Regions from separate parts of the Homo sapiens genome. Here region 1 is linked to region 2. Evidence: fine-mapped expression QTL. A gene starts in region 2. The other region holds a variant in brackets. All regions are shown on one strand. Distances are from middle to middle. Region 1 overlaps DPP8 (dipeptidyl peptidase 8). Region 2 holds the start of IGDCC4 (immunoglobulin superfamily DCC subclass member 4).

Evidence for each region. PIP is the estimated chance that this variant, and not a neighbour inherited with it, causes the effect.
Region 1: its variant is the best candidate, but not a certain one, in a credible set for the expression of IGDCC4 in esophagus mucosa (GTEx, PIP 0.84).

The regions. Positions count from the first base shown.
Region 1 is chr15:65,459,681-65,464,680 of GRCh38, forward strand. It overlaps DPP8 (dipeptidyl peptidase 8), which reads right to left. Exons shown (of 20, transcript NM_130434.5): 15 at 4,081-4,226. Among named protein-coding and RNA genes, the nearest start is that of IGDCC4, 39 kb to the left of the region's middle. The variant A/T (reference allele first, on the strand shown) is at 2,237.
Region 2 is chr15:65,420,397-65,425,910 of GRCh38, forward strand. It overlaps IGDCC4 (immunoglobulin superfamily DCC subclass member 4), which reads right to left and starts at 2,551. Exons shown (of 20, transcript NM_020962.3): 1 at 2,397-2,551. The coding sequence starts at 2,466. RefSeq lists enhancers at 1,454-1,563, 1,584-1,853, 2,829-3,363.

The sequences.
Region 1 (5,000 bases), 39 kb after region 2:
GCAGTGGCTCACGCCTGTAATCCCAGCACTTTGGGAGGCCGAGGTGGGTAGATCACCTGAGGTCAGGAGTTCGAGACCATCTTGGCCAACATGGTGAAACCCCATCTCTACTAAAAATATAAAAATTAGCCAGGTATGGTGCTGCGCACCTGTAGTCCCAACTACTCAAGAGGCTGAGGCAAAAGAATTGCTTGAACCTGGGAGGTGGAGGTTGCAGTGAGCCGAGATCGTGCCACTGCGCCCCAGCCTAGGCAACACAGCGAGACTCCATCTCAAAAAAAAAAAAATTGTTTTAATTGAATTGGCTAACATTTTTTAAATTATGGTAAAATATATATAAAATTTACCATTTCAACCATTTTAAGCATACAATTCAATGACATTAAATATATTCATGCTGCTGTGTAACCATCACCACTATCCATTTCCAGAACTTTTTCATCACCCAAACAGAAATTCTGTACCCATTAATAACTTCCAGACAGGCATGGTGGGTTACGTCTGTAATACCAGCACTATGGGAGGCTGACGCGGGTGGATCATTTGAGGTCAGGAGTTCGAGACCAGCCTGGCTAACATGGTGAAACCCTGTCTCTACTAAAAATACAAAAAATTAGCCAGGCATGGTGGTGCACGCCTGTAATCCCAGCTACTAGGGACGCTGAAGCAGGAGAATCGCTTGAACCCAGGAGGTGGAGGAGGCAGTGAGCTGAGATCATGCCTCTGCATTATAGCCTGGAAGACAGAGCGAGACTGTCTCAAAAACAAAGAATCAAACAAACAAAGCACTCAAACACTCCCCATCCTCCTTCCATCCAGTCCCTGACAACTTCTATTCTACTTTCTATCCCTATGAATTTGCCTATTATAGGTACCTCATACAGGTGGAATAATATTTGTCCTTTTGTGTCTGGCAATAATTATTTCACTTAGCATAATGCCCTCTAGGTTCATCAGTGTTATACTATATGTCAGAACATCCTCCTTTTTAAGGCTGAATAAAATAATATTCCGTTGTATGTATAGACCACATTTTGTTTATCCATTCATCTGTTGATGGACACGTGCACTGCCTTTTGGCTATTGTGCATAATGCTGCTATGGCTATGGCTGTATAAGTATCTGTTCCTGTCCATATTTTCAATTCTTCTGGGTATATACCAAGAAGTGGAATTTCTGGCTCATATAGTAATTCTATGTTTGACATTTTGAGGAAATGCCATACTGTTTTCCACAGCAGCTATAACATTTTATATTCTCACCAGCAATGAACCAGGCAGGGTTCCAATTCCTCTACATCTTGTACAGCACTTAATATTTTCCTCTTTTTGATAACAGCCAATCCAATGGGTGTGAACTGGTATCTCACAGTGGCTTTGATTTGCATTTCCCTAATGACTAGTCATATTGAGCATCTTTTCATGTGGCTAAGCCTCTTTAAACTTAATTACTCATATAAGGAATCCTTTAAATCTTTTTCTTGAGACAGGATCTTGCTCTGTCACCCAGGCTGGAGTATAGCGGCATGATTATGACTCACTGCAACCTCGAACTCCTGGGCTCAGGGGATCCTCCTGCCTCAGCCTCTTGAGTAGATGGGACTGCAGGCATGAGCCACCACGCCTAGCTAACTTTATTTTTCTGTAGAGACGGGGTCTCACTTTGTTGCTCAGGCTTGTCTCCCAACTCCTAGGCTCAAGTGATCCTCCCTCCCAAATTGCTGAGATTACAGTTATGAGCCACTACACCCAGCCTAATCTTTAAAATCTAGTTTTTAGAATGTCTTTTAACAATCCTATATACTGTATCATTTCTTCACTGGGAGGGGAAAATCTTCTTATTTAGTCTTACCATCAAAATAATTTAACAAATGTATAAAGCTTGAGAGTGTCCTATGATTTTTCTCTTGAGTTGCTTTCTATTAAGCCTTTTTTTTTTTTGAGACAGAGTCTCGCTGTGTTGTCCAGGCCGGAGTGCAGTGGTACGATCTTGGCTCACTGCAACCCTCCAGCACCTGGGTTCAAACGATTCTCCTGCCTTAGCCTCCCAAGTAGCTGGGACTATAGGCACTTGCCACCACTGGCTAATGTTTGTATTTTTAGTAGACACAGGGTTCCACTATGTTGGCCAGGCTGGTCTTGAACCTCTGACCTCATGATCCGCCTGCCTTGGCCTCCCAAAGTGCTGGGATTACAGGCTTGAGCCATCGCGCACAGCCGACCGTTTTTTTTTTTTT[A/T]AAGTTTACAAATATTTGACTTCAAGCTTTAACCAGAAGTCTAAAATTTAACTTCCTTTCTTTCTTTTTTGAGACAGGGTCTTACTCTGTTGCCTGGGCTGCAGTGTAGTGGCACAATCTCAGCTCACTGCAACCTCCACCTCCCAGGTTCGAGCAATTCTCCTGCCTCAGTCTCCCTAGTAGCTGGGATTACAGGTGTCTGCCACTGCGCCCGACTAATTTTTGTATTTTTAGTAGAGACAAGGTTTCGCCATGTTGGCCAGGCTGGTCTTGAACTCCTGACCTCAGGTGATCCTGCTGCCTCAGCCTCCCAAAGTGCTGGGATTACAGGCTTGAGCCACAGCGCCCGGCTAACTCTTTCATGACTTGTGTAGATGAAAATACAAATGTCAATCATATTTTGTTTGTAAACACACTTGATGGCAAAGTGATTTAGAGATTTTATGGTTTATGTAGTTATTTTACTTTTTTTGTGTACAATTTGGTATGTAGATACATTTCCAGATACTAAATAACTGGGTATAATTATTAAAGGGTATTACTGAATCTAAGGATTGCATTATGAAAAGACTGTAATTATATTTTAATTTCTTCCAAGGCTCAGTGTAGGATATATAATCAAGAATAAACAATTTTAAAATTTAGCAATTAACCAATACACCCATCCAAAATATATATATTTTGGACAGAGTCTCGCTCTGTCACCAGGCTGGAGTACAGTGGCACTATCTCGGCTCACCGCAACCTCTGACTCCCTGGTTCAAGCGATTCTCCTGCCTCAGCCTCCCAAGTAGCTGGGATTTTAGGCACGCACTACCACGCCCAGCTAATTTTTATATTTTTAGTAGCGATAGGGTTTCATCATTGTTGGCCAGGATGGTCTCGATCTCCTGACCTTGTGATCTGCCCACCTCGGCCTCCCAAAGTGCTGGGATTACAGGCGTGAGCCACTGCGCCTGGCCAAAATATTTCACTCCAATAGTCAAAGCATTTACTTAACAGTCATTGGCTAATACTTAATCCAGAATAAGGAAAATCAAGGTATAAACTTCTTACAGTGCTAAATAGTAGTATAGCAGTTGCCTTAACTAGCTGATAAAAATATTTTAATTTGCTTGAGAGACACAGCTTTAGAATGAAGAGGGAGAATTCACTAGGCTACCAAAGCTTTCTAAAAATATCTGTTAAGACTCTTTTGATTTACCAAGACATTTAATTATTTCATTTTATTTCCCAAACAAGTTTCTCTACATAGAAAGCAACATATTTACCTACTGACATGAACACCGCACTCCTCACAGAACTATAGTCCACACTGCAAATTAAGGAACTGCCTTAGTGGCAGGGCACGGTGGCTCACGCCTGTAATCCCAACACTTTGGGAGCCTGAGGCGGGTGGGTCACTTGAGGTCAGGAGTTGGAGACCAGCCTGACCAACATGGTGAAATCCCATGTCTACTAAAAATATTTTAAAAATTAGCTGGGCATGGTGATGTATGCCTGTAATCCCAGCTACTTGGGAGGCTGAGGCAGAAGAATCACTTGAACCTGGGAGGCGGAGGTTGCAGTGAGCCGACATTGCGCCATTGTACTTCAGCCTGGGCAACAAGAGCAAAACTCCATCTCAAAAAAAAAAAAAAGACTCAGTGATTTACAAATTAAACCTCCAACAAAAACCAGTTTCCTGACCCCCTAAACTGAATAATTGGAATATAAGACGGAGTCATTAAAAGCAAATGCCCAACAATGCTCAAAATCTTAAACTGACTAGACATTTAAAAAACAAAAGATCTAAAATACATATGCATATGGGTGTATGTATATATGTATATAAATATGCCCACCTGAGGACCACCATATATGAACAGCACAGTAGGATATTTCTTTCCAGGCTGTAGATCATGAGGCTTGTAGAGCATCCCATACAATGTAAATCCAGTAGTACTTTCAAAAGAGAAAATTTCTGGAGGAGTATAGTCAGGAAGAGGACCTGTGAATAGGTAACATAACAGAGTCTACAAAAGAGTTCTTATGGGAGTGCTACAATCTGGGAACAAGAAACAAGATATTAAAAGTCAGCCCCGCCAACACAAACTGACCACCCCTCTTTCAGATGATAAGCTAGAATTTAAGCAAGAGTATATTCATCTTTAAAAACAAAACTAGGCCGGGCGCAGTGGCTCATGCCTGTAATCCCAGCACTTTGGGAGGCCGAGGCAGGTGGATCACAAGGTCAGGAGTTTGAGACCATCCTGGCTAACACGGTGAAACCCCGCCTCTACTAAAAATACAAAAAATTAGCTGGGCATGGTGGCAGGCGCCTGTAGCCCCAGCTACTCGGGAGGCTGAGGCAGGAGAAGGGTGTGAACCCGGGAGGTGGAGCTTGCAGTGAGCTGAGATCACGCCACTGCACTCCAGCCTGGGTGACAGAGCGAGACTCCATCTCAAAAAAATAAATAAATAATTTAAAAAAAACAAAACTAGGCCAGGCACGGTGGCTCACACCTACAATCCTAGCATTTTGGGAGGCTGAGGTGGGTGGATTGCTTGAGCCCAAGAGTTTGTGACCAGCCTGGGTGGCATGGCAAAACCCTGTCTCTACAAAAAAATACAAAAATTACCCAGGCATGGAGGTGTGCTCCTGTAGTCCCAGCTACTCAGGAGGCTGAGGCAGGAAGATTGACTGAGCCCAGGAGGTTGAGGCTACATTGAGCTGTGCCCTGTGACTGCGCCACTGCACTCCAGCCTGAGCGACAGAACAAGA
Region 2 (5,514 bases):
TGCTACAACAGCCTCGAAGGAGCTGGAGCTTCCTGCCTCCAGCCCCACCCAATCCATCCTCCACACTGGCTGGAATGAGATGATGCAAAGCTGATTTTAAATCCTGTCAAGGGCTCATGGGGACTCTCAGGCCAGAAACCTTGGTGGGCCCTGTAAAGCCCTTTGTGAGCTGGATCTAGCTCCCCTCTTCAGCCTCCTGTCTTGATACTCCCTGACCCCTTTCCATGCTTCCCTCACCTGCCCCCCATCCACCCCTTGTCCCTAAACTCCAGCTAGATTTAGTTTAATCCAATGATCTCAACTAAATCACCTCTGAACTTTGCACATGCTGTTCTCTGGAAAACTGTCCCCATCATCATTCTCCTTCTACAGGGCTAACTCCATGTCGAGCTCTACTACTCATCACTTTCTTCAGGAAGCTTTTGCTGACCTTCCCAGATCGGTGTAGGAGCCCCTCCTTCCTGCGTCTTCCCCAGCACTTCAGGGGACTTGTCAGTTTCCCCCTCCACCAGACTGAAAGCTTTGCACCAGGGATCAGGTCTGCCTCCTTATTTACTATATTCTAGGCACTAGGCACAAGCTAGCCTATAAAAGGTGCTCCATAAATATTTGTTGAACGAATGAATGACCTCAGTACAGATCAGGGTGGCTAGTCATGACTCGACTGGAGTGTCCCCCGGCCTGCTGAGATTTGGAGGACCAGGGCAAGCTGTTGTAGCCACTCACACTGCAACCAAGAGACGCCGCAACTCGGTCCCTCGCCTGCTTTGTGCGTTCGGGAGCAGGGAGAGGCCAGGGAAGCTGGGTCCCTCGCGGCAGGTCCTAAAGGTATTGAATAATGCGCCGGTGCGGTTCCCAGCCCTGATGCCGTTTAGCTGGGTGACCCTGAGCTCGTTCCAGGAGCCCTAGGAATAGCGGAAGGTGGGGCAGGGGAACTATTCCTTAATCCCCTGAGCTCTGGGAAGACAGACCTCTCTCTGACACTTCCCCGCCCCTTTCACCTGACAAGCCAGGGCCTCCAGCTCCTCTGGCCCAGCAGCCGAGACCCAGCCTCGCGGCGGCCTCCAGCTTAATCCGCTGTTGGGGCTGGAAAGGGGCGTGTCTTTGTAGGGACAGAAGGGGTCCGAGGAGTTCCCGGCACTTTCCCACCCGCTGTTTGGTTTTCCTGGAGATGGGCCTGGGGCTGGCCAGGCGGAGGCTCCTTCCCCCCGCCTCCCTCCCACGTGGCCTGGCTGAGTCTCTCTGGAAAGCCGCAGCAGCTGGAGAGAAATCCCCCTCCCCACCCCCACCTCCAAGTCCCTCCCCGACTCTCCCCGGACACATCCTCAGCTCCCCCCTCCGCGGGGAAGGCAAGAACTAGGCGAACAAAGCGGCCAGCCCATCCCCCTCCCAGCCCTGCCACCTACACTCCCCATGAGCCGCCCCCAAACGCACACCGGACAGGAAGCGACAGAGCTGTGGGTGGAAGCCGCAGCCCTAGACACACACCCTTGGGGACTTCGCTATCCCCTCCCCAGCCCTTTCTCCAGCTTGGACAACTCTGACTTACCCCGTACCCACTCCGCACTGGGCTGCGGACTGGATGAGGCCCTGCTGACCTCGTCCACGCTTCCCTGGTCGGTCCCTGGGGGGTGGGGCCGGGGTGACACGCGTCCCATCGTGAGAACAAGCGCTGGACATGTCCACGAAAGCAAATGGTTTCCTGCCCCCTCCCCCAGTCCACTGCTGGCCACAGGTTTTGGGGAGCAACACCTCCCTCTACCCCTCTCTAACCGGCCCCAGGGACCACACCCACTGGGCAAAGTTGAGTGTTGTTTTATCACCACCACCCCCAGTCAAACGGGATCCATCGCTCTGTCCCCCACTATGGGCAAGGACACTTCCCAAATGCCAAGGCCAAATATTAGCTCAGCCCCATAAACACAATTGCACACGCACCCGACCCAAATGGAGGTGCAGACACAACCCCAGTTCCCTCCTCTTTTACACACACTCTCAACCCAAGACACGCGCAGGCAAGGCAGAGCCCGCCCCGCGAAAGCCACCGACACCGCAGCTACCCGCCCCGCCGATGCCACGCCGCGACCATGGCACGCACTGCGGACACGACAGGAGCACTCCCAACACACACACACACACACACACACACACACACACACACGACTCCAGACTCTGCGAACCAAAGGCACACACCCACTGCGGACAAGCACGCCCCACAAACGCCCCCCGGCCGCAGCTCGCAGACCCCCGCGCAGGCATCGCGGGCACCTGGACGCGCAGCCCCCGCACTTGCTCGGGACTCCGGCTTGAGCCAGCCCCGCAGCCCGATGCAGACCAGGGCGCGGGCGCACCAGCACTCCGCAGTCGCTCCTGCCTCTCCGGGCGCCCGCCCTTACCGCGCGCGGCCAACAGGCAGAAGGTCAACGCGAGGAGCCCGCGGCCGCGGCCGGCGTCCCCCCGCGCCATGGGGCTGGGCTCGGGCCGCCGCCGCCGCCGCCGCCTCCCCGTGCTTCGGCCGCCGCCGCGGGGGGAGAGCGCGCCGGGCGTCAGTGGCCCGGGGAGGCGCGGCGCCGCGGGCGGGGGCGCGGCCTCGGGGGCCCGGGCCCGAGCTGGGGCCGGCGCGGGGGCCAGGGCCGCTGCCGCCTCACCCGCCCCTCCATCGCCATCTTGGGCGAGCGGCCCGGGAGGGGGCGCCCGGCGAGTGTGGCCACCCTGGCCCCGCCGGGGACCCTGCGCCCGCGCGCCACGGCCCTGCGCCTCGCGGGGGCTCCTCTCGGCCCGGGTCTGTGTCCCGGTGCCTCGCCCTCTCCGGGTCGCCGCGGGCCCCCGTGAGGCCGCCTGTTGCTGGGTCTGTCTCTTAGTCTCCCCGTCTCTGAGTCTTCTGGTCTCTCTGCCTCAGCGTCTCTATTTCTTCTCCCTGTTGCTGCCTCGGGGTCTCCACCTCCGTTCCAGGCTCAGGGGAGGCAGATTCAGGGCCACGGTCTTTGTCCAGATGGCCCCCTTGCCACCCGAGCCCAGTCCATTCCAGCCCAGGTCCTGGCCTGAATGCTGGTTCGCTTCTCCACACGTTGCGCCAGCCCACCTGCGGAGATCTTGATAGTCCTATCTGCCATCCCAAACCAAGGGCTTCTCTTGGCCTCCTTCCCTTGCTCTGGCAGTAACTAACACAGGCAGGACACTTTTACACTACCTTCAAGCACTACCATATTCAGATGTCGCCGCATGGGGAAACTGAGGCTGGAGAAGGTGAAGTGACTTGCCCAAGGACAGGAGGCTAGGGAGCAGCAGATACAGGACCTGAACCTTGGTTTTCTGACTTCGGAAGGTCATCTCCACTCCCTCACCCTGCCTCTGCTGTCCAGCATTTACTGAAGTACCCTTTTTCTCATTCTTCAACGGTACTTTCTCTAACCTACCTAGCCAGACTGTTTGCCTCAGTATCCCGCAAATATTTCTTGTTCTACAGCCAAGGGTTCAATTGTCAGGCTAGGGTGGGGAAAAGAGTACAGATTCAATGACCTAGTTAAGGTCCTTTCCAACTCCAAGATGCCATAGTTCTTCCCTTCCCTGTGTCTCTAAGTGTTCCTGTGACTTAGAGCCATCTTGTCTCTACACCTGTCTGTTGTCAGTTAACCCTCAATAATCACTGGCGCTTTGCATATCTAACAGGCCTGGCGTTTATTCATTCATTGCCACGCCCCATCTTCACTTGCCCTATCAGCAGCATTTGACTTAGTGAATCACTCCCTCTTCCTTGAAACACTTGCTTCCCTTAGTGATCTCATCTGGTCCTCAAGGCTTTAAAGAGCATCTTTATGCTAATGATGCCCAAATGTATACTTTCAGCCTAGACCATCTTTCCTGAACCCTGGACTTCTGTATCCAGCCATCCAGGCCCCAGTTCCTTTAGCTGTCTAGTAGACAAACTCATCCTGATCTTTTCTATCAATCTTTCTCCTCCCACAGTCTTCCTCATCTCAGTTCCTTTCCTGTTGCCCAGGTCAAAAATGTAGAGGCCAGGCTTGGTGGCTTACGCCTGTAATCCCAGCACTTTGGGAGGCCGAGGTGGGAGGATCGCTTGAGGCCAGGAGTTCAAGACCAACCTGGCCAGCATAGCGAGACCCCCATTTCTATTAAAAAAAAATGTAGAGTCATCTCCTACTCTTCATGTTCAGATGCTTCACCCTCCACTTTCTCACTGTGGCCTTGGTCCAAGACCCGTCGCCTCTCACCTGGATTGTCACAGCAAACTCCTCACTGATCTTTTTCTGTCCTTGTCCTCCTTGAGTGTTTTCTCAATACAGCAGCCAGAGTGCTCCTGTTAAAATGAGATCATGCCACTTCTCTGCTAGAAACCCACCAGCGGCTCCTATGTCAGAGCAAAAGCCAAAGTCCTTATTGTGACCCACAAGGCCTATCTGATCTGTAGGCTTGCTCTACCTCTCTGACCTCCCCTTCGACACCACCCCCTGTGCTCACCACCTCTCCAGCCACACCATCCTCCTTGCTGTAACTTGATCGCGGGCAGCCTCCTCCCCTCCAGCCTCAAGACCTTTGTCCGGCCAGTGCAAGTCTAGAGATCTGTTCCCTCATACTGGATACCATAAAGGCTTTCTCACAGCCTCACCCCCTACTCTTCCTATCCTCCTTCCCTGCTGTCTATTCTTGTCTTTAACTGTCACTTTCTTTTTTATTTTATTTTCTTTCTTTTTCTCTTCTTTTTTTTTTTTTTTTGAGACAGAGTCTTACTCTGTCCCCCAGGCTGGAGGGCAGTGGCTCACTGCAACCTCCGCCTCCTGGGTTCAAGTGATTCTTGGGTCTCAGCCTCTCAAGTAGCTAGGACTACATGCCCAGCTAACTTTTTGTACTTTTAATAGAGACGGGGTTTCATCATTTGGTCAGGCTGGTCTCGAACTCCTGACCTCAAGTGATCCACCTGCCTTGGATCCCAAAGTGTTGGGATTACAGGCGTGAGCCAGCACGCCTGGCCAACACTTGTCACTTTCTTTTTTTCTTTCTTTTTTTTTTTGAGATAGAGTCTTGCTCTGTCGCCCAGGCTGGAGTGCAGTGACACGATCTCAGCGCAGTGCAACCTCCGCCTCCTGGTTTCAAGAGATTCTCCTGCCTCAGCCTCCCGAGTAGCTGTGACTACAGGTGCCTGCCACCATGCCCGACTAATTTTTTGTATTTTTAGTAGAGACGGGGTTTCACCATGTTGGCCAAGCTAGTCTTGAACTCCTGACCTCAGGTGATCCACCTGCCTCGGCCTTCCAAAGTGCTGGGATTACAGGCATGAGCCACTGCGCCCGGCCAACACTTGTAACTTACTAATATGCTCTACATTTTACTTATTTTCGATCTGTTCCCCCACCCCTCACAATCACAATGTGTGCTTCATGAGGACAGGGATTTTTGTTTGCTAGGTTCACTGCTGAATGCTAAGCACCTAAATCAGTATCTCACACTGTGTAGGTGCCAGGGGACCTGGATAAAAAATACAAGTCCCTGCCCACA